7 linked regions of the Homo sapiens genome follow. The protein of the gene in region 5 purifies or fractionates together with the protein of the main gene of each other region. This does not show direct contact. Each region holds a gene or a part of one and is shown on either strand. Other genes may lie near its edges. The genes, in order: CHST12, ELF2, RGPD5, TOR3A, LGI1, STK39 and CAMK4.

Region 1 (3,500 bases), on a different chromosome or scaffold from region 5:
TGGATTTGTCTGTTTATCCTTTAGCTCTATCGATTTTTGCTTTTTGTATTTTGAGGCTCTGTTGTTTGGTGCATACATGTTTAGGATTGTTATGTCTTCCTGGGGATTGAACTGTTTGTCATTATGTAATGTCCTTTTGTCTCTAGTAGTTTCCTTCCTTCTGAAATTTGCTTCATCTGATATTAAGATAGCCACTCCTGCTTTCTTTTCATTAATATTTGCATGATTAATGTTTTCCATTCCCGGGAGAGAGGAGGTGAGAAAGTAGAGGGCCAACTTGCCCCACCTCTAACCACCTCACGCCATGTCATGGGTGCCAGATAGGGGTGGAGTAGAGTTGGAGTTCAGCTCCTACTGGGCCCTGACCTGGCTGGGGGAGAGGGAGTCAGAGTGTGGACTCTCCTGCCTCACACCATCTCCTTCCACCTTGTGGATGCCAGGTGGGGTCAAGGCTTAGCTCCCTGCTGGACCACACTGACAGTACCCTGGTGGGACAGACAGAGGAAGCACCTCTACTTCCATGGGCAGAGGAAGGGGTATCAGCTCCCAGCTCAGCCCCACCAACACCCCCTGGTGCCTGGCAGGGGAATAGCAATGTGCCACTTACTTTTGGGAAGCCAGGGTGGTGTGGAAGGTCAGCTCTCAGGGTGGCCCTGATGAAGCTGTAGGGTGCAGTTTTTCCATTGGCATTCGACTTAAGTAGAGTGGGTGTTGCCAAAACAATTTTCCTGTTGTTGGGTCACTGTGAAGTTAAGGAATGGTTCCCAAGACCCCTCTTACTTATGACACCAATAGCAAATGCAGGCGTCCCTGAGACCACTGTGGGGTTTGATGATTTGCTAGAAAGATTACAGAGCTCACTGATCACAGTTATTCTTGTGGCTATGGTTTATTATAGGAAAAGGATATAGATTCGAAGATTAAAATCAGCCTTGGCAGGAGAATGGCGTGAACCTGGGAGGTGCAGCTTGCAGTGAGCCAAGATCGGGCCACTGCACTCCAGCCTGGGCGACAGAGCGAGACTCCATATCAAAAAAAAAAAAAAAAAAAAAAAAAAAAAAAAAAAATCAGCCTTGGGAAGAGTTGCAGAGGGCAGAGTCCAGGAGGGCTCACACCTGGAGCTGGTCTCCACTCCCTGGGAGGCGTCCTCTTCTTGGGAGTTGTGGGCAATATTACTTTCCCGCCAGTGGCGAGTGTCAGCACATGTGGAGTACTGCCAGCCAGGGAAGCACGCGAGCCTTGGCGTCCAGGGTCATTACTGGTGCTCGGGCACATGGATGTGTAGACTCCCTGCACTGCTGACCTCAGCCTCCAGCCCCTCTGGAGGGCGAGCTGATATCACGTGGCCCAGCGCTCCTGCTCCTCCGGACCCCAGTCCCCCACTGATCAGAAGGCAGGAGTCAGAGCCCCAGTGCACCTCAGTCATTAACTAGTGTGTCATTGCATCTGCAGGTTCCCAGCAGGATGCCCCGGCTCTGCAGGAAGCTGAAGTGAGAGGCCCGGAGAGGGCCCAGCCCGCCCGGGGCAGGATGACCAAGGCCCGGCTGTTCCGGCTGTGGCTGGTGCTGGGGTCGGTGTTCATGATCCTGCTGATCATCGTGTACTGGGACAGCGCAGGCGCCGCGCACTTCTACTTGCACACGTCCTTCTCTAGGCCGCACACGGGGCCGCCGCTGCCCACGCCCGGGCCGGACAGGGACAGGGAGCTCACGGCCGACTCCGATGTCGACGAGTTTCTGGACAAGTTTCTCAGTGCTGGCGTGAAGCAGAGCGACCTTCCCAGAAAGGAGACGGAGCAGCCGCCTGCGCCGGGGAGCATGGAGGAGAGCGTGAGAGGCTACGACTGGTCCCCGCGCGACGCCCGGCGCAGCCCAGACCAGGGCCGGCAGCAGGCGGAGCGGAGGAGCGTGCTGCGGGGCTTCTGCGCCAACTCCAGCCTGGCCTTCCCCACCAAGGAGCGCGCATTCGACGACATCCCCAACTCGGAGCTGAGCCACCTGATCGTGGACGACCGGCACGGGGCCATCTACTGCTACGTGCCCAAGGTGGCCTGCACCAACTGGAAGCGCGTGATGATCGTGCTGAGCGGAAGCCTGCTGCACCGCGGTGCGCCCTACCGCGACCCGCTGCGCATCCCGCGCGAGCACGTGCACAACGCCAGCGCGCACCTGACCTTCAACAAGTTCTGGCGCCGCTACGGGAAGCTCTCCCGCCACCTCATGAAGGTCAAGCTCAAGAAGTACACCAAGTTCCTCTTCGTGCGCGACCCCTTCGTGCGCCTGATCTCCGCCTTCCGCAGCAAGTTCGAGCTGGAGAACGAGGAGTTCTACCGCAAGTTCGCCGTGCCCATGCTGCGGCTGTACGCCAACCACACCAGCCTGCCCGCCTCGGCGCGCGAGGCCTTCCGCGCTGGCCTCAAGGTGTCCTTCGCCAACTTCATCCAGTACCTGCTGGACCCGCACACGGAGAAGCTGGCGCCCTTCAACGAGCACTGGCGGCAGGTGTACCGCCTCTGCCACCCGTGCCAGATCGACTACGACTTCGTGGGGAAGCTGGAGACTCTGGACGAGGACGCCGCGCAGCTGCTGCAGCTACTCCAGGTGGACCGGCAGCTCCGCTTCCCCCCGAGCTACCGGAACAGGACCGCCAGCAGCTGGGAGGAGGACTGGTTCGCCAAGATCCCCCTGGCCTGGAGGCAGCAGCTGTATAAACTCTACGAGGCCGACTTTGTTCTCTTCGGCTACCCCAAGCCCGAAAACCTCCTCCGAGACTGAAAGCTTTCGCGTTGCTTTTTCTCGCGTGCCTGGAACCTGACGCACGCGCACTCCAGTTTTTTTATGACCTACGATTTTGCAATCTGGGCTTCTTGTTCACTCCACTGCCTCTATCCATTGAGTACTGTATCGATATTGTTTTTTAAGATTAATATATTTCAGGTATTTAATACGAAATGTGGAAGGGAATGCTGGAGTAAAATATCCCCTCTCCCCTCCGCCCGCCCACCCGCCCGCCCGCTCGCCCGCTCGCCCGCTCCTGTGGTTTTTCTGAGCGTGCGGGCGCCGGGAGGGGATGCTGAGGCTGATGGAGCTGCCTCCAGGGCTAGGGCCACTCACCGGAGGAGGGCGGGGCCTGCACTTGAAGTCAGGCCGCACCTGTCTGTTTTTGGAAGGGTAGCCGACAAATCCTTCCAGAGGGAAAGTTCTTTGTTTAAGTGTTGTACTTGAAAAGGTCAATCTTCAGGGCTTCCTGTTTGAAGTCAAGTCAGAGGTAAACCGGTCAGTTACAGAAGCAGGATTTCTAGGATTTCTAACTCCAGCTGTTCCCATACTGTCTAGTTTAAATTATGGCTGTTAAGGCCGGGCGGGTGACTCAGGCAGGTAATCCCAGAACTTTGGGAGGCCCAGACAGAAGGATCGCTTGAGGTCAGGAATTTGAGACCTGGCCAACATGGTGAAACCCTGTCTCTACTAAAAAAAAAAAAAAAAAAAAAAAAAAAAAAA
Region 2 (3,500 bases), on a different chromosome or scaffold from region 5:
ACCATGTTGCCCAGGCTGGTCTTGAACTCCTGGACTCGAGCAATCCACTTGCCTCAGCCTCCCAAAGTGCTGGCATTACAAGCATGGGCCACCATACCCAGCCTCAAAATGTTAATAACGACCAAATTCTATTTCAGTTTTCAATCTCTACTGCCTCCCCGCAGACTCATACATTTATTATTACCCTCATTTAAAAAATTCATTCTTCCAACTTTCTCTACCACTCTACTTTCTTTTTTGAAATGGAGTTTCGCTCGTTGCCCAGGCTGGAGTGCAATGGCGCAATCTTGACACACCGCAACCTCTGCCTCCCAGGTTCAAGTGATTCTCCTGCCTCAGCCCCCTGAGTAGCTGGGATTACAGGCATGTGCCACCATGTCCAGCTAATTTTGTATTTTTAGTAGAGACAGGGTTTCTTCATGGTGGTCAGGCTAGTCTCAAACTCCTGACCTCAGGTGATCCGCCCGCCTCAGCCTCCCAAAGTGCTGGGATGACAGGCATGAGCGACTACCCCCGGCCTACCACTCTACTTTCAAGCGTCTCCTCTGACTCTTCTTTCATCTCCATAGACTCAAGTCTAGCCAACTTAGTGAGGTTCTATCCTCAGTGTCTCCTTTCTTTTTGCCCTATACTACCTTCTCAAGTAAGCCCACCCATTCTTATGGTTTCAAATAGCACCTCTATGCTGATAATGACTAAGTATTTGTCCTCTACTCTGACTCATCTTCTGAATTCCAAAACCAAATTTTAAACTACCAACTTTAACATCACTACAGGAATACTCAGTCAACACTTCAAGCTTAACATGTCTAAATGGCACAAATTATCTACATCTGTCCCTGTTTCCCCATTCTGTGTTCTTTAAATCTTGGTTTCTTCATATTTAAAAAAGAGATTTTAATATTTCTGTCCTTTAAAGTCCCATGACTTTATATGCACAAAGTTCTTAGCATAGTATAAGTACAAAGCACAGAGTAAGTTATTCAATTAGTGACAGCTGATATTATATTTTAACAATAGAAATAGTCTTCAAATCTACTATTTGCCCTCAACTTTAGAGGGCACCTTTTCACATCACAATCAGAACTGTTTGTGTTACTTCCTTGCATAAAAAGCATTAATGACTCCCCTTTGGTCTAAAAGGAAAGTTTAACAAATTAAACAATGGCTTTAACACTCTGAAATATAACCCCAACCCACCTGTCATGGGCTGAATTGTGTCCCCCAAAAAGATGAAGTTTTAACCCCTAGCTTCTGTGAATGTGACCTTATCTGGAAATAAGGTCTTTGCAGATGATCAAGTTAAGACAAGATAATTAAGATGAGCCCTCACCCAATCTGACTATGTCCTTACAAAAGGGAAATTTGGACTCTGAGACACACAAATGGGAAGGAAAACCATGGAAAGACACAGGGAGAACACCATCTACAAGCCAAGGAGTGCCTGAGGCTACCAGAAGCTAGGAGAGAGGCATTAAAGAGATTCTCCCTCCTAGCCCTCAAAAAAAAACAAACAACAATAAAAAAAAAATCTATCAACACCTTGATTCCTAAATTCTGACCTCCAGAACTGTAACACAATAAATTTCTGTTGTTTAAGCAACCTAGTTTACAGTACTTTGTTACAGCAACCCCAAGAAACTAATATACCACCTTTATATCTTATTTCCCTACATTACTTAACATAAATTGATTAGTGGCATTGCTTCTAATTCCTAAATGTGAACATTTCCAAGACTTTTGCTCATGTTATTTTGTAGCCTTCACATCTGTCCAAATCCTTTTCATCTACTGAAGGCTTTTCATCAAGTTCCAGGGAATCTTCTATAATCCTCCAATCTGAATTAATTTTTCTATCCTACGTATTTATAGAACAAGTTGTTTGCCTAATATTACCACTGTTCATTGTCCCATATTATAATTATGTGTTTACATATACAACTCCTTGACTGGTTAGTAGGATATTTGAGAGCAAGAGTTATATCGTAGTCAATTTTTATATCCTCCTTAATAACACATGCTTCATATAAACTAAAGTGGCATTTAAGTACAGATATTTGTAGCTTGGCTCAAAGAATAATAAAGTCAACAAATTTTAATATTAACAGGTATTTATAAGTTCAACATTTGCTCATCTATGGAGGCAAGTAACTTCATGAGCCTTTTTTCTGCCATATGATACAGACCAGAGGACACTGCATGCAGCTATTCAGATAATTATTGCCTTGTACTGTGTAGAAGAGTAGCTATTTTTATGGGAGAAAGGGGATGGAAGAGAAGAAACCAGGAGTCTTTGCTTAAAAATAAAATAGCAAAAAATAACACATGTACAAGGTTATTTTACTTAGCATTACTTTGCTCAAGTCACCATGGGTCTTGGCACAAGCTGTCTAATTCCCTACAAGCTAGGGTGCAAATAAAAAAATACAGGATACCCAGTTAAATTTGAATTTCAGAGAAACACTGAATAATAACTGTAAGAATGTCCCATGCAATATTTGGGACATACTTAAAGTAAAAAGTCATTTGTTGTTTATCTGAAATTCAAATTTAACTAGACATCCTGTATTTTATCTGGCAACCCTACTGTAAGTATTAACAGTGATCTCAAAAACTTCCATTTAAGGAGAGAGATTCTTAGTTTAAAGAGGCAAGACAAGTGCAATGCTGCAGTGTTTACCTAGAAAGTGCTTTTATATGCACTCAGTCATTGCTCTCCAGGTATCAGAAGTTTCCAAAGACAAGTACAATGAAATGGCTGAAAGCAGTGGTATTGTAATCCTTTTCTCAATGTACTTTAGGAATATATAGAAAGATAATAAAATTCAGGAGTATGTGAAAAGTACATAAATTTGTTCCACATTTTCTCTTTCGAGGTAGAGTAAGGTTACCTTAAAAAATCTTATCAAAACTGAAAAATGCCGTTTGGCAGGCTTTAGGGAGGACTCATCTCCCCTACCTCTCATGGTTTAACCCCAGAAACCACTCCAAATAAATACGTCACTAGAATAAATAATGGTGCACTTGCTATGCAAACCCAGTTTTAAGACAAGTCCCCTAAGCTAGATGTTCATAATGCCAAAAAAAAAAAAAAGAGATAGAAAACATACACCCATACTAACAAACATCCATACAATGAGAGACTATTCAATATCAATTAAGCAATTAAGGCAGTTAGAGCTATATACTGGCATGGAAAAATATCCATGATACAAACAAGAGGGGGTGGAAGGAGGAGGAAAATGAGCCATAGAATAGTACTGTTGTCTGATTCCATTTATATATTTATTTAGCATATACATTTAAAAGTCTGGAAAAAATACACCTCAAATTATTAACCTGGTGAAAGAGAGGTGAGCAGACAAAAGATGGATTTTCATTTTCTCAGTATGTCTGAGTTTATTGTTTTTTACAATGATCCTGGTAATTAAGAAATATCAAAATACTTTTTTCATTTAAAAATAACAATTGGTACAAAAACCAAAAAAATAAAATAAATA
Region 3 (2,450 bases), on a different chromosome or scaffold from region 5:
TTTTTTACTGATCACATGCCTTTTTTGGTGGGGGGGGGGGGTTCTTTTTTTTTTTTTTTTTTTGAGATAGGGTCTTGCTCTGTCACCCAGGCTCGAGTGCAGTGGCGTGATGAGACTTCAATGCAGCCTTGATCTCCCAGGCTCAAGTGATTCTCCCACCTCAGCCTCCCAAGCAACTGGGACCACAAGGTGTGTACCACCATGCCTGGGTAATTTTTTGTTTTTTTGTAGAGATGCAGGTCTCACTGTTTTCCAGGCTGGTCTCAAATTCCTGGGCTCAAGTGATCCTCCCACTTCAGCCTCACAGTGTTGGGATTGCAGTCACGAGCCACTGTACCCAACCATATGTCATTCTTTAGACACACTGCTTACTAAATTTCTCTTTTTAAAGGATATACTGAATTTCCGGTTGAGCCAACTTAACAGCTAATTTTCTATTTTAGCTTTAAAACATTGATAAGCAACATGAAGCAATCTAGAACTTAACCTTTAAATGGCTTTATTAAAGCAATCCAGCTATGAAAATTATGCAGAAATGATTATCTACAATCTTACCAGCACATAAGAAATTCTTCCTCTATTCTGAAATACCATCTTCTCACAATATACTTTGATGTTATGAATCAATGTCTGTTCTTGAACATTATTTATTGTCTTTCTCTATTAAACAATTCCAAAATAAAATTTCCAGCACAACTAAATATTGTTGACGATAAGGGGATTTAAAAAAAAATTCTTTTAAAACAGAAGCTTATATACAACTTAGAATCTAAAACCAATAGATTTATGGGAAACCTTAAAACTGAACCACAACAAACAAAAACCAAAGTTTTAATCATTTAAAAATCATGTTTATTGAGGTACAACTTACTTATAGTAAAACCTGCCCTTTTCAGCATATAGCACTGAGTCTTGACAAATGCACAGTTACGTACCACCACCGACCAAGGCCTGGCACATTTTCATCTCCTCAAAGTTCTCCCTGGCTGCTTCTCCCACTCCTTGGCAACCGCTAACCTGTTTTCTGTCCTTATAGTTCTGCTTTTTTCAGTGTCATATAAGTAGAATCACACTGTACATAGTATTTTGAGTCTGACCTCTGTCAACTGGCATAATGCATTTGAGAATTACCCATGTTGCTGAACTGGCAGTGCATTCTTTTTTATTGCTGAGCAGTATTCAATTGCACGGCTGTACCAGTTTGTTTATTCATTTGCCAGTTGAAGGATAACTGAGATCTTCCTCGTTTTTAGCAATTTTAAAGAAAGTTTCTACGAATAATTGTGTACAGGTTTTTAATTAAATGTTTTGGAGATATAATTCATATACCACATAATTCACCTTTTTAAAGTGCATAATTCACTGGTTTTTAATATATTCACAAGGTTTGTGCATAGGTTTTTGTGTGAATACTGGTTTTCATTCCTCTTGGATAAAGATTTAATTTGGTATTACCCTTCCAGACACCTTTCTGTGTTTTCATACGTATATATGTATGACAGTTTGACCTTAGGCAGAGTAGCATTTTCAAAATTTTACATGGGGAAACTTTCTAGAGTTAAAGTCATTTTATTTTTCTGTTCTGTCTGGTTTTATCTGCGTGTTATTTACAATCTGCTGCGTAACAAATTACTACAAACTTAGTACCTTAACACATATTTATTTCACAGTTTCTGTGGGTCAGGAGATCAGAAATGGTTCTATTTCAAGGTCTCTCACAGGGCTGCAATCAAGATGTTGGCATGGCTGGGGTCTCATCTGAAGGCTGGACTGGAGAAGAATCTACTTCCAAACTTATGTGGTAGTTGGAAGAATTTAGTTCCTCAAGGCTGCTAAACTGATGGCCTGTGTTCCTTGCCTCTGGGATGGTAGCTTGCTTCAACAAAGTGTGCAAGCAGAGAAGACAGAGAGAGGCCGCTAGCAAGATAGAAGCCACAATCTCTTGTAATCTATCATTCTTGCTGTATTCTACTGGTTAAACATAACTCATTAGGTTAGCCTACTGGCTCTCAAGGGGAAGAGATTATACAAAGGCATGCATTTCTGGAGGAGGGAATGAGGGCAAACAATTCTGAAAAGTCTGTCTTCCACAACCTGAAGAACTTCTAGAAAGTAGGAGGAAGCGATATTGCTTAGGGATGGACAACTTGGCACTGGTTATGTGTTCCAAGTGAGGTAACCTTGTTCCCAAGAATAAAGAGAACCAGACGACTGTAAACATTTCCCTAAACTGAAATGCAGACTGTTGTATGTTCACCTGAAATGAATGGTGTAAGCTGAATATAAGATTTTTGACAAAATAAAAATTTTGCTGTGTTCTCAGATCTGGCAGGCTCCTGCCCTTGTGCAAACAATGTTCCTGGCAGCTATTCATCTCCTTAGGTAAATAAGAATTGGAGAAAAGCTGTGCTTAGATAGGGTGCATTTGCTCTTGCCTTGGAAGGCTGTTT
Region 4 (3,500 bases), on a different chromosome or scaffold from region 5:
TTCACTGCCAGAATTTACCAGGGGCTGAGAGCTCCCAGCTGGAGGAGCCCGGCAGGAACAAGGGCCATCTGCAGTGCTTGCTCAAGGTCAGTTGCTCAGCCAGGCTTTCCCCGGGGAAGCTGCTCACACCACTCTTCCACTTTCTGACACTGCCCCTGCTGCAGGAAGGCCTTCCAGGCACATGATCTGTGCACACAGGAGCAGCCACAGTTGCATCAGCTGAGGCAAGACCCTGCTGCCAGGGCATTGCCCCATCCTGCATTCCCCACAGGAGGCAGGCAGCACTGTTTACCTTGGCAGGGGCTGGAAGGCAGGATCCAGGGTGCTGTGAAACCCCACAGAGTGATACTCCCTCACCCCATCCTAGGGGCATGGACTCCAGGGCCTTCTCCATTCTGTAAGGTGCTTACATGGGTAAAGAGAGGTCCCATCACATAGGGCAGGAAGCTTGGCCTGTTTATTTCTGTAACCCCAGTGCTATGTGCGTATCAGGCACTCAGCCTTTAGTAAATAAAGGGACATCTCTGCACATGTGTCTGCACCATCTCCACCCTTCTCAATCTCTCCTGTTTTGTCCCATAGCCAAAGTCCCTTTTCTTCCACCACTTTAGAGGCTTTAATCTCACCCACTGACCCATAACCTGGGGCCCCTCTCTACGCGCCGCCCCTCCCATCTTCAGGACCACCACTCTGGCACCAGCGTTCTACCTTTAGACAGACACTGTCTTTCTGGAGCACCTCAATTCCCTTCCACAGCCTCCCAGCTCATCTGCTGACCTGGATCGCTGGGAAGTCTGGAGGGGCCAGAGGGCACCTCTCTCAACCAGCCCTCATCCCCCGTCTCCAGCCCCTGCCAGGGCTGATCTCACCAGCCCTTATCCCTAAGACCCCAAAGGAAGGGGACTTCAGGCCTCACCAGAGAACTGGTTGTTACTGGTAACAAACCCCATGCTAACTGCTACATCTTTCCTAAAGAACAGACATAGACTCAGTCATCTCTTTGAGCCTTAGTGTTCTCATTTATAAAGTCAGGACTGGACCAATCTAAGCTGTCCTCTCATTAGTCAACAGGCAGCCAACAGACACTGGGGGCTGGAGCGCAAGGCCCACCACGACTCCACAAATAATTTCTATTTGTGTAGTTCTGTAATTTTTCAAAGTCCTTTCTATCCTTTTCCTGACAACAGCACAAAGGAAACAGGCTTTAATTACCCTTGTCACTTTACAGCTCCCATGAGAACAGGGCAGCAGCTCCGATCGCAGAGTTCCACGTTCCTGTCCTGCCACGTGAGCCCATTCCTGCAGCCTTCTATACTTGGCAGAAGTGGGCGAAGTAATGTTACTTTCCTGGTGCCCAGTCACCGGCCCCAATTCCCTGGCCCGGATGAAGGACAGGCTCTGAGCACCACACTCAACTCCCTGCTTCAGCTCCCACCTCCTCTCTCCTGCCACCAGGAGGAAGCCAGCAAAGCCACTGGCAACTCACTTCAAACAGCAGGTTTAGGATTTATTTCAGAATTAAACTGCTGCTCTTCCTTCGTGCAGTATGACTTGGTCACTCTAGCAGTTTGAATCAGCTGTGCTTTTCTTTCATGCCCTAGAATCCTTATTACAGTGGATGATTAACTGAAGCTCATTATAGAAATCAAGTCCAGAGACTCCAATATCAACAGTGTGTCTCCTCCCAGCCATCGCTGGACTACCTGAGAACTTGAGGTTGAGAGGCTGCTGCCCTGGACAGCCTGGGCACAGACTATGTCAGCCCAGCCCTCGGCTGGAGGGGGGAACCTCTGGCTCGTAAAGGCTGGGCACAGGCCCACACCAGAGCCACTAGAACCTAAGGCCACATCTTTTTAATGTGTCCTTTACATCCTTGTCAAAGGCTCCTGGGGGACCTCCCCACCCTGCTGTGGCATGGAGGAGTCTGGCAGGCGGCTTTCCCGCAGGCCCCCCCCCCCACCCCGCCCACAACCACATGGCCTCGGACAGTCCACCCAGGCTGGGTCACTGGGGGAAAGGACAGGCAGCTGGAGGGTGGTGCTGTCAGGTCGACGGCCAAAATACTACAAAGGCTATAACATTTGCCTGGAGACTGCAGGGTCACCGGGTCACGTTAGGCAATCACGGCCCAGGTGAGGTTTTCCAAGCTGAGAAGTGGGTGGGAGAGTCTGTGTGGCCGGCACCACCTGAAGCCGGGAGACCCCTGTCTCGGGGAGAGGGAGGAGGAAGACACTCAGCGCAAGGGAGATCCCTGTGGAAGCGAAAGGGAGGCCCGAGGCTGGGTCACCATGCTTTGCTCCGTGCCGTGGGAAGGACTGGCTTCCGCATCGGTGGTTCAGAGGGTCCCCTGGACTGCCCGACCCAGGGCTCAGGTGGAGAAACCACAGAGCACCCAGGTGACTCCTCTGTTCAGGCTCATCTGCATGTTGCAGCCCCCACCTGACTCTCTGTAACAGGAGGAGAGGTGAGCCCGGCTGCCTCCGAAGGTGGGAAATAGTACAGAACGTGGGAATAAGAACTAACTGGAAGAATGTATTGTCCTCACCTCCTGGTTCTGGGCACCCAAATCATGCAAGAGATCTCTCTCTCCTCTTAAAAATCACCCTGGGCGCCCCACTCCCCTCCCACTTCGCAATGCATTTTAAGTCTCCACAGCTTCACCTGCAGACCAGGAAGGGCTTCCCGCCACTACACAGAAATCCCAACCCAGCAACGGCTTAAACCTGTTTCACTTTTTTTTTTTTTTTTGAGATGGAGTCTCTCTCTTGTTGCCCAGGCGGGAGTGCAATGGTGTGATCTCAGCTCACTGCAACCTCTGCCTCCCAGGTTCAAGTGATTCTCCTGCCTCAGCCTCCCGAGTAGCTGGGATTACAGGCACCTGCCACCACACCCAGCTAATTTTTGTATTTTTAGTAGACAGGCCACTGCGCCTGGACCCTGTTTCACTTCCTCTTGTGAATCCACACCGAAACTAGATCTGCCCTCCACAGCTCAACCCTTCACCCCTCCACACTCCCCAAGCTAGGATGAAAATCAGCATCCCCTCACCAACTTCCCCATCCTCACAAAGTGAGCCCTGCAGCTTGGGAAACCCCCCCAGCAAGCAAGTGCTGGCCTGGGGAAGGCGAGGCCGGAGTGGAGTTGGGAAGGGAGCACTCAGTTTGACTCCTACCGAGGCTCGAGCTGTTGTGAAGCCTTCAAATTGGGTCAACAAGGGCCCAAACTTGACTTGTAACAGACACAGGACTCCCCCAGTTGGAGCCTCCGCAAAAAGATGAGGTTGGACAAGTTATTTCTAAGTTGGCTTCACGCAAAGATGTCAGTGAAAGCACAGGAACCTCAGTGCAGTGATTCAGTGACTGGGTCCCGCATGGTAGCGTCACAACTGAACTACAGGTACTCAGAGGAAGCATGGGTTTCTCAACCCGTATACCCTGGATTTTAAGCCAGTGATGACTTCTCATAATCGGAGAAGAAACAGACTTCCAAGGCTGAAGGAA
Region 5 (3,500 bases):
ATGCTTGTTTAGCCATTTAGAAAATAGCTGTGATGAAATCTGCTCCAAATAAAAACAGTGACAGTGTATATTTACACACTCAGAAGCCTTTTCCTGTTGAATGAGCTGCAAGAAGTCATCTCCTTCCTCCCAAAGATGGAGATCTACTGGGAGGTCCCTAAAGAAGGGGTGTGTGCTAAATTGCTTGACCAGGTAGAGAGCCTACTGAGGAGCCTGACTCCCAGAGGTCACATCAACGAATCCACACTAACAAAATGGTCTTGAGTTGCTCCTTATATGGAGACAGACCGTTTAATGTATCCACTAGGATGAGATTCTTTCCACCTGCGTATCCTTTGCTATCCAACCTCTCTAGAATGAGGTGGGGTACAAATAGTTAAGCTAAAAATAAGATGAATTATCACATGCATATATTTCCAAAGTACTGTATGTTCCATAGAACCAATATTCTATGGGATGTTAAGAAAAGTGAAACAATTTTGAATAATTTCAGAGATGTTTCTATGCCAAGGTAACTTCATTGTAAATAACCAAGCAGGGATAGAACGTGCAGTTTCCCAAATTTATTTGAGCACAGAACTCTTCTTTCAGGTCAACTGCTCCACAGGACACAAGTTTAGACAACAGTAGTCTAAGGTGTAACTTTAAAGTAAATAAGGCCTTTTTCTTTTGCTTTTTTCTTTTCTTTCTCTCTATTTTTGTTTAAGCAAGGAGATCAGAGCTTACACATATAAATGAGAGTTGCAACCTAGGGAAACTAGCTGCTCTTGCCAGCAATGCGGCCACTCTTTCAAAGGGCTTTTGAAACTCCTTTCAGTCATTGTCTCCAGGAATTAGGGCACATTCTCCTGAAAACTCTTGTTAATGGCAAAGGTTGACCCTTTGAGAGGGGATTTGATTTTGGGAACAAAACTATGCAAAGTGAAGCATGATGATTCATGTTCAGGAGGAAGTAGACAGAAGTGGTTAAAAGTGAGGACATGGGTTTAAACTCCAACTCTGCTACTTAATAGGGGCGTGACATTGAGGAGGTTATCTTTTAGGACTCAGCGCTTCATTTGCAAAATGGAGATAATTATATCTACCTCAAAAGGTTACCATGATGATGACATTAAAAATGAGATCTATAGGCCGGGCGTGGTGGCTCACGCCTGTAATCCCAGCACTTCGGGAGGCCGAGGCGGGAGGATCACGAGGTCAGTAAATCGAGACCATCCTGGCTAACACGGTGAAACCCCGTCTCTACTAAAAAAATACAAAAAAATTAGCCGGGCGTGGTGGCGGGCGCCTGTAGTCCCAGCTACTCGGGAGGCTGAGGCAGGAGAATGGCGTGAACCCGGGAGGCGGAGCTTGCAGTGAGCCGAGATCGCGCCACTGCACTCCAGCCTGGGGGACAGAGCGAGACTCCGTCTCAAAAAAAAAAGAGATCTATAAAATGCTTAGCACCAAGCAATACAAAAATAACTAATGTCTCTAATAAAACCTTGCCTGGTTTTATTGCGTGGCTTGTAAACTGGCAATGAAGACAATTCTCAAAGGAGGGTCCAGAAATCTTTAGCCATGGAAGCACAGTTGGGCAAAATCTATGGCCCTCTGTGAAGTCAAGAGTTATTTGTATGTATACATTCTAGTTTGTATTTTTAAAGATTTATTGCCTTTTGATCACATTTTACACATGCAAGCACCTGCCATCTTGCTATATAAAAATGGGCCTAACAATTTTTTTCCAATCCTTGCTCCATGAGAGGGATACTGAAACATCATTTTATCATCAACCACCACAGGGAGAGCCTGGTAAGGTCCCTTTGGACCTGTTTGGGAGATTGGGAACTACAATTATTGTATTAATAACCTTATAACAGCCAGTTTCATATTATGAGTTTCTTTCAATGAACAACCTAATGTATTGGTTTGTTAGAACTGATTCAATAATCTTTGTCCATTTCTTTTTTTTTTTTTTTTTTTTGAGACGGAGGCTTACTCTGTCGCCCAGGCTGGAGTGCAGTGGCGCGATCTCGGCTCACTGCAAGCTCCGCCTCCTGGGTTCACGCCATTCTCCTGCCTCAGCCTCCCGAGTAGCTGGGACTACAGGCGCCCGCCACCACGCATGGCTAATTTTGTGTATTTTTAGTAGAGACGGGGTTTCACCGTATTAGCCAGGATGTTCTCCATCTCCTGACCTCGTGATCTACCCTCCTCGGCCTCCCAAAGTGCTGGGATTACAGGCGTGAGCCACCGCGCCAAGCCATCGTTGTCCATTTCTTTAACCATGCCATTTCTATATTATATTAACGTAACTGTTTGTAGAATACAACAGAATTTTAAGATAGGAGGAGACCTTAGATGTAATTGAATGCAAGGGTCTCAAAATGCCAACTTATATTTGTTTGGTCTTTATCCTGTTTAAAAATCTACTTCCAGAATTCCACCTTCCCCTAAAAATGAGGAAGATAGGGCTCCATGTGCATGTACCACAATCCCATCAGCAATAGTCAGTTGGAGCAGAGGATTTTTAGGTAAGACATGTCTTCTCTGGTTTACCTCAGTCACCACTACTCCTTATTGTCTTATACTCAACTGCTTCCTTCATTGGTCTTACCGCCCCAAACCCCACTAGCATTTGAGTTTCAGAACCACAGTTTAATCTACCTCTAATATTTTATGCAATAAAAGCTGAGGTCCAGTGATATTTTGTGACCTACCCAAACTATTAGGTAGTTTTGTGACCTACCCAAACTATTGGATCACGCAGCCCAATAGTGGCCAAACTGAGTTTCAAACCCATGTTTCCTGATTTCTAGTTTAGGCCTCTTTCTATGCTACCATAGAACCACTCATCTGAAGACTGCCAATATTAATTATTTAAACAAAATCTGGCATGTTTTACAAAACGTGGTGCCAGTCATTTTATTCATGAGGAAGAAAGGAGAGGGTTATGACTTTTTTTTGAAAGGTAAATAGTTCATGTTTCCTGTAAGAAGTATTTAAAGAAAAGATTTCTCAGCAAGTTCTGCTGGGGAACTGTGTGTAGAACCACAAAATGTTTAAAGCTGAGATTATCGGCAAACCCAGATTATACAATCAGACACTAATCTGATGTTATGGTAGTTCCAATTAAAGTGATTTTCAGATACTGTAATAAAGCTAATGTGTATTGAGTTACAGGAACCTTGCAAAGCATTTTTCATGCATTGTTTTACTTAATCCTTACTGTAATTCTGTGCAATAGGTACTACGGTTCTTCCTCATTTTGTAGATATAGATATCAAGACTTGATTAAGCTTGCCCCAAATCATACAACTAGGAAGAAGCAGAGTGGGGATTTGAACCCATGCTTATCTGCCCACAAGTCTGTGTTGTCTGCCTCATTGCCAGCTCACCAGGGTCAGCTGTTTTGATATTACAGCTGATGCTGTAAAGCCCTTGCAGACATTCTGTAGCCCGTATTAGCCACAGGATCAACAACCAGCAAGCATCACCATCATCACTAATCAACTGAA
Region 6 (3,500 bases), on a different chromosome or scaffold from region 5:
GGATTCTGGGTCAGGGACCAGAAGGCTGTTCATGGCCGTTCCATGGCTGGTTCCTTTTCTGGTTACAGTATTTCTCACAAAAATTCCTAAGAGCAACCCTCCAAAGAGGGTGCAAAAAGTCTGAACTGACAAAGAAAGGAGTATGAGGCCAGGAGAAAAGGCAGAAGTGAACTGCTGAGAGAAAAAAAACACACTCTTTGAGGACCTAAATCACAGGTGGGAGGGGGAAAGAAGTATGTTGTTTCTAGACCTCTGCTTATAACCGGAAGATTCCTTCCTGTGACACTACCTGATCTTTATTTTCTTTCCTTCTTTTTCTTTTTTTATTTGAGACAGAGTCTGCCTCTGTCATATAAGCTGGAGTGCAGTGGAGCAATCACAGCTCACTGCAGCCTCAACTTCCCAGGCTCAAGCGATCCTCCCACCTCAGCCTCCCAAGTAGCTGGGACTACAAGTACGTGCCACCACGCCTGGCTAATTTTTGTATTTTTTGTAGAGATGGGGTCTTACCACGTTGCCCATGCCGGTCTTGAACTTCTGGGCTTAAGTGATCTGCCCACCTTTGGCCTCCCAAAGTGCTGGGCTTATAGGCATAAGCCACTGAGCCTGGCTGATCTTTATTTCATTTACCTGATATATTTGAGGCACTAACACTTACAATAAACAAACAGATACCTAGTACTTTGTTACCATATACAGATTAGTATCCTTGGCACTGTGAATTCATGTTTCAACACATATTAATTAGTATTCCAAACCCCTGGGTCAGTTTAAAAGCCAAAATTACCTGGGGGTTTGACATTTCTGAAGAGTTAACAAACGGCTTACCTCAGGACCTGAATTTGGCTCTAGGCTCTTTATAATTAACTAAGAGGATTGAGCTTCCCCATCAGATACAGCTGCCTGCCCCTCATTAAGAGATTCAATGTAATGAAATAGAAGAAAACAAATGCATATTTTTCCCCAGAGGAAAAAAAAACCTCTGTTTATTTGTTGACTCTTAGATTTTTGTGTCATTTAAAAAATGATAATTCCAAAAACATTTTCTTTTTATTGTATAAGGATATACCATACCAGGCATGCATGCATTTCTGTCCTGCTAAAAGAAAAATGAACAAGAGTCCACGTCTGCCCACGTCCTTACCTGTGGAAACCTGTTTAAAATCTGTTCTTACCTAAAGCCCAGAGAGGCTAAATTGGACTCAAAAAGACAAAGAAATTTTCTGTCAGATCCTCCTCAGAAAACAGAAGATTCTCAGCTTCATAAAGCAAAAGGTAAAATCTTCAGCTTGAGCAGAGCATTTGGGACTATTCAGGGTCTCAAGTCATCAGAATTTCTCATTTCCTCAGAGTTGGTGGAACCCCACAAAAAGAGAATGCCTTAAGATCATCTTGTTGGCAAAGCGCAAGTTCCTCTGCTGAATAAAGGGGCAGTCCCAGCACTCAATACTGCAGTCCAGCTCTGGCAGGCTTCCTTTTTCTTTTCCTTTTTCTTTTTTTCTTTTTAATTAAAAACTGAAGTAGGCACTCAAGGAAACAATGACTAATAAGACTGAGGAAGACTGAAAACAGAACAGAACTAAGCTCCCCAGGGCTCCCCACCGAGACCTACACAAGCAGACCCAAGCCAATTACAATGCCTTCGTCATCTCATTTTTGGGCTTCTGCTTGATCCAAGAGAGTTTCCTTTTTAAAAAAGGAAAACATTAAAACACCTCCCTCGACATCTGCAGATTAAAATAGGCTCTATCATATAAATTCTGCTATGCTAGTTTTGGGTTGTCCAGGCACAGCAAAATGTTCTCCTCTGATCCTAAACCATACTTCATGTCTCAGAAAGATACCCAGAGAATCAAGCCCTCGAAAGAGAACACACCAGAGATGTGGGTATGCTGGGTGTTCCCAAGGAAATCACTTGGGCTTTCTAAGCTTCAGTGCCCATGTCTGCAAAACGAAGGTGTAAATACTTGCAGCACAGCATACAAATTTTTAAGTCAACAGATGTTAAAGTCACAAATTCCAGCACCAACATTTACTATGTGTGTGACCTTGGGCAAGTTGCTAAACTCCCTTGAAATTTGGTGTAATTTCTGAAAAACAGGGATGGTGACACAGGCCATTCAGGGACACTGTGAAGATTAAATGGGATAAGGTCAGTAAATTGCCTTGGACAGGATCTAGCCACAGAGTAAGTGTTCAAAAAAGGCAACGGTTATCATTATCATTCCCTCTCTGATAGTGATGTTAGAAGATTAAAAGAAATAAAATACAGGATGTGAAAGCACCTTGTAAATTAAATTGTCAATGGCTTGCATCACTGCAGGGATCTGAAGCTAGAGAGAGGAAGTGACTTTCCCTTCCCAAATGCAACAATAGGATGACAATAGTGCCATTTCTGATCAACACTGCAAGTGAATATGTAGCACACATTTCTCCCCATGTCAACTGAAACCACATTTAGTGAGCACCTACTGGGCGCCAAGTTCAATGAATTCAAAGTGCATTAGACAATCTTCACAAAGTCCACAACCTAAATATGCACTGTCCAATACTGGAGCCATACAAGGTGATTTAAATGTAAGTTAATTAAAATTGAATACTCAGTCCCTCAGTCACACTAGCCACATGTCAAGTGCTTAAGAGTCACATGGGATTAGTAAAAAGTAGATAGCAGCACCTCAGAACATTTCCATCATCACAGAACATTCTGATAAATGGCACTGAGATAATTCAGCAAACTGCAATGTGTTAAGGACCTGAACAATGTTAAAAAGAAAGGACTCAAGGAGAAAGGACTGGCTAACTTTTTTGAAGAGTAAGCGGTGACTGTGGAGAGGATGTGACCTTTTAGGCCTGAGCACATGGAAAACAAAGGAGAGATGCAAGGCTGAGAAAGAGGACAGGTCAGGGGCAAAGGCATGAGAGCACATAATACATTCCGGGGGCTGCCTCTCAGCCTAGAAGGTCGGGCATTTCATACCTGGAGAAGAGGACATACACATTCTCGGAAGTTAAGCAAAATTATGAAAAGCTTTGAAGGTCAATGTGAAGCAATCTGGACGTTATCCTCTAGGCAATGAGAAACCAAACAAACTTTCAAACACAGGAGAGAAAGGATTCAATCTAAAGTCTTCTCCAATATGCTGGTTCCAACAAAAGGAGAGAAAACAAGCAAATAAATAACAACAACAAAATCCACTTACCTCCACTTAGTAATTTCATGACCAGCCAAAGTTCATCTTTGACCACAAAAGAGGTGTAATAGGTCACTACGTTGGGATGGCTGCACTGACTCATGGCTTGAATTTCTTTCTATAAAAAGAGCAAAACATGACATAGTACCATGGGGTGAAAATTGGCAAGCAAAACACAAGTGAATCACAGTTGAGTACCTGGGTAACTTTCCTACTCGAAAGCCTACCTGAGGGGCTGCCTAAGCCATTACTTCAAAGAAGGTATATAAGGACCAATTCTCTCACCCACATTATCAACTCAGATTA
Region 7 (3,500 bases), on a different chromosome or scaffold from region 5:
TTTTCTTCTATGTGACTGTTTTGGTTACAATGGCAGTAAGTTCTTATCAAAACCGTTCATCAAGTAGTCTTGAGATGCATAACAGTTGCACGTATGTACCCACTTCCCCTTTCTGCACAAAGACACACCTTGCAATATGATTTTTTGTTTGCATATTTATCTGTATATTTGCTTTAAACTCACTTTTCATAAAGTAGAATGTTATTTAAATATAAAGAAGTTTATTCAGTATCCACTTATGACTACCATTCTTTGACCCAGTCACCATCCAATAAAATGTTTTTTGAGCACATGCTTCCAAACTGTGTACACTAACGTACCTATTAATGGTATATATGTGTTACTTAACCAACATTAATGTGCTTTTTAAAACATCCAAAAATAAAAATTAAAGACAAAAATTAAAAAAAGAAACCAAAACAGATTCTCTAATACTTTCTTCTAGCACCTCATTGTATTACACATACCCTGGCTACGGGCATCCCACCTTATAGACCTCTGCTATAGTCGAAATATGAGTGGCTGATTTAATTTAACTCTATTCAATATATAAAAAAGGAGTAATTTTAAGTTTTCAAAAGATTGCTTAAACAGGTTCCTCATTTAAATGACCTTAATTATCCACCTGAGACATCTGCATAGCATATAGAAGGATTATTCAACACACAGCTAATACTAGCAAATGGAAAAATTAATTCAACTTTACTAGTTAGAGGAAAATCTTTCATCAGTAATTTATTTAGCATATTATTGTCACTCTAAATATAATAGAGGAATTATCAATTTGAAACCTATTTAGTTATTATGTACAAAACAAATTACCCGCCAATAAATAGTCTTTTGATATGAACATTGTTCACGGTATGGAAATTTAACTTTCACGCCCTTCGAATAAAGGCTCTTCATTTTCACAAACATTATGTGAAGTAAACATCAGTCATATAATCAGTATCAGACAAAAAGAAATAGGAGGAAGAAAGAGAGAAATGGAACTAGCCAACATGTTACATTGGTAAGAACTGTAACTGTAGCAGTTTCAGTAGATTTTGATAAAAGATGAGTATGCATTTAAAGCTTGTGCCCACGTGGAAAACTAATAAAAAGTTGACATTTTCAAAGTGAAAGAGAGACTAAAGGTAGTTCCTTGAATAAGTTAAGATTTGATATCATTTTAACCTGAAATTCTCATGCAACTGGGGAGGAGCAGAAGTTTAGCTTGACTGGTCTAGGTTAGCAAACCACAGACCAGACCTAGGAGCCGTTTGATTTTCTAGAGTCTGCAATCTAAAAACAATTTTTGCATTTTTAAAAATCAAAAGAAGAATACTATTTTGTGATGTGAAAATTATATGAAAGTCAAATTTTACTGTCATAAATGACATGTCACTGGAACACAGTAATGTGCTATTGTCTGTATGTTGTCTATGCCTGCTTTCTCTCAACCATGGCAGAGGGTAGAGCTGCATCAGAGACTGAATGGCCTTCAAGCCTAAAATACTTACTGTCTCTTTTTACTCACTCTTTACCTGGTCTAGGTAACCAATCTAAGTCCAACATTTCTCCTTTCTTACCTAGTCATAGGCTATGGGATTGTTTTTTCCTTAAAAAAAAAAAAAAATTTACATCATCAGTTTTCTCTTATCTAGCCCCATGTTTGATCTACATTATAGGTAGTGGCAAATTCTGAGTCCCACAACCTCAGCCCAAGACCCAGCTGCTTCTATAGCTGACGTTTTTCTCTCACAATGGTTACTTTATCTACAAAGTGGTTTTCAAGTGACACAAGCCTACTCTTTTTGTTTTTTTTAAACAGGTTGTCTTTGGTCTGACATCAACTTACCCTGCTGACCCAATCTGCCATTGCAATGTTCATGCTTTATAAATTTTGCAAAACAAAAATGTATATCCTGAATTTTTCTGTCCTTTTTTTGCCTCTTCTTAGAATGTACCATCTGCCTGACATGCTGTTTGCCAGTGCTCTACCTATTAAAATCCTGCCAAATTTCAGAGTCTACCCCTCCCCCATAAAGACACCCCAGTCCTCTCTGTCACAACTCTGTCATGAAGATGGCTATTGTTCTTAGATTTCTAATAAGTTTTATTCATTTTACTTATTCATTAATTTATCTTTTATTAAATATATTGTTGGTGCCTTATTAGTAGTACCCTATGCACTTGGAGGCCAAATATTGATTTATCATGCTCATTTACACTCTAGGCCCTTACCCCACCACATGCACACTGCCAGCATACATCGTCTAGGTCAGAATTATTGAAAAGCTTAGACTTATAAACAAGAGGACTTTAGGTAGCACAAACGCATGGAATTAAATAACAAGGAATAAAAGAGAGAGCGAGAACATCCTTTTCTTTTCAATTACTTTTCAATGATTCTGATTACATCAAGAAGAAAACTTCAATTTGTGCTACTCTGGTTTTAACTCTGCTAATCTTTGATCATCTCTTTTTTAAGGAAGAAATCAGTCCTCAGAGTTACAGCCTTCTGCATGTGGACAAGTCTAGCTATAATTTACTAAAAATGTTATGTTTCCATTACAATTTATTTTTACAATTTGTTTCTATTTATGGCATATACAATTTGCTTTTATTCACAGTTTTCAATTTAGTGAAAATTGTATTCTTGGTAAATAAATTTAGGTTAACAAAATAAGGTAATTTAAATAAAAATATTAAGCAAATAGCAGAAGTGGAATACACATAAAACAGAAATCTTATGGTAATACATAGAAATGGGAGAAACATTTGGTTGTAGCAGATACTCAGTAAAGCCAAATTAACATAATCTATCAATCTCCTTGTTGTTGTTCACTATCTACATAACTGAAAGAAAATGTGTAAAACACTAGCTTCAAGACATGATTCTCAAGAGGAGAGAGGGGACACATTTGACAATGTTTAGAGACAGTTTTGGTTTAACAACTTATAAGGGTGTCACTACTGGCAGCTAGTAGGTAGAGGCCAGGGACACTGTTAAACATCCTACAGTGCACAGGACAGCCCCCACAACAAGGAATTTCCTGGGCCAGAAGTCTATAGTGCCTAGATTGAGAAACCCTAGTCTAAGAGAAAAGAGGAAGGTCTACTTGCATTACCCTTTACCCATCACTATGAATCACTGTCTCTCCAGACACTGTTCTTTTCTTTATTTGATCTTTACCACTGACAAGATAATGACTGAGGAAAATCTCTGACAAACTGTATTGAAGGGTCCACATCCTTTATGTGCTAATACTATGCCTTCGATATTTAGACCTAACTTCCTAATTAAACCATTGGAGTCATGAAATCTTCAGATAATCCTGTACTACAAATAGATCAAGAAAACTGAGGTAAAGATCAATATAATTTGAGTAAAACCTTGACTCTAGCTGCTATCAACTTCATGAAAAGTTCCTCTTTGTCCTGAATTACATGGTTCCTTGCCTCAAACACCATATTTTGCAGTATGAATTTGACCTTGAAATTTTACAAAATCAATA

Evidence for each region.
Region 1: the proteins of LGI1 (region 5) and CHST12 purify together in Homo sapiens (affinity purification with mass spectrometry; one large-scale study listed by BioGRID and IntAct). This does not show direct contact.
Region 2: the proteins of LGI1 (region 5) and ELF2 purify together in Homo sapiens (affinity purification with mass spectrometry; one large-scale study listed by BioGRID and IntAct). This does not show direct contact.
Region 3: the proteins of LGI1 (region 5) and RGPD5 purify together in Homo sapiens (affinity purification with mass spectrometry, with the first as the bait; one large-scale study listed by BioGRID). This does not show direct contact.
Region 4: the proteins of LGI1 (region 5) and TOR3A purify together in Homo sapiens (affinity purification with mass spectrometry; one large-scale study listed by BioGRID and IntAct). This does not show direct contact.
Region 6: the proteins of LGI1 (region 5) and STK39 purify together in Homo sapiens (affinity purification with mass spectrometry; one large-scale study listed by BioGRID and IntAct). This does not show direct contact.
Region 7: the proteins of LGI1 (region 5) and CAMK4 purify together in Homo sapiens (affinity purification with mass spectrometry; one large-scale study listed by BioGRID and IntAct). This does not show direct contact.

What each region holds. Positions count from the first base shown.
Region 1 is NC_000007.14:2,431,111-2,434,610, forward strand, and holds part of CHST12 (carbohydrate sulfotransferase 12), read left to right. Parts: intron 1-1,452; coding exon of another isoform or gene 1,453-1,529; coding exon 1,530-2,774; 3' UTR 2,775-3,500. UniProt on the Homo sapiens protein: Catalyzes the transfer of sulfate to position 4 of the N-acetylgalactosamine (GalNAc) residue of chondroitin and desulfated dermatan sulfate.
Region 2 is NC_000004.12:139,128,719-139,132,218, forward strand, and holds part of ELF2 (ETS-related transcription factor Elf-2), read right to left. Parts: intron 1-3,500. UniProt on the Homo sapiens protein: Isoform 1 transcriptionally activates the LYN and BLK promoters and acts synergistically with RUNX1 to transactivate the BLK promoter. Isoform 2 may function in repression of RUNX1-mediated transactivation.
Region 3 is NC_000002.12:109,853,305-109,855,754, reverse strand, and holds part of RGPD5 (RANBP2-like and GRIP domain-containing protein 5/6), read right to left. Parts: exon of another isoform or gene 66-2,450; intron 1-65.
Region 4 is NC_000001.11:179,088,570-179,092,069, reverse strand, and holds part of TOR3A (torsin-3A precursor), read right to left. Parts: intron 1-3,500.
Region 5 is NC_000010.11:93,764,436-93,767,935, reverse strand, and holds part of LGI1 (leucine-rich glioma-inactivated protein 1 isoform 1 precursor), read right to left. Parts: intron 2,517-3,500; exon of another isoform or gene 2,422-2,516; intron 1,594-2,421; exon of another isoform or gene 1-1,593. UniProt on the Homo sapiens protein: Regulates voltage-gated potassium channels assembled from KCNA1, KCNA4 and KCNAB1. It slows down channel inactivation by precluding channel closure mediated by the KCNAB1 subunit.
Region 6 is NC_000002.12:168,164,096-168,167,595, forward strand, and holds part of STK39 (STE20/SPS1-related proline-alanine-rich protein kinase), read right to left. Parts: intron 3,313-3,500; coding exon 3,204-3,312; intron 1-3,203. UniProt on the Homo sapiens protein: Effector serine/threonine-protein kinase component of the WNK-SPAK/OSR1 kinase cascade, which is involved in various processes, such as ion transport, response to hypertonic stress and blood pressure.
Region 7 is NC_000005.10:111,230,884-111,234,383, reverse strand, and holds part of CAMK4 (calcium/calmodulin-dependent protein kinase type IV), read right to left. Parts: intron 1-3,500. UniProt on the Homo sapiens protein: Calcium/calmodulin-dependent protein kinase that operates in the calcium-triggered CaMKK-CaMK4 signaling cascade and regulates, mainly by phosphorylation, the activity of several transcription activators, such as CREB1, MEF2D, JUN and RORA, which play pivotal roles in immune response, inflammation, and memory consolidation.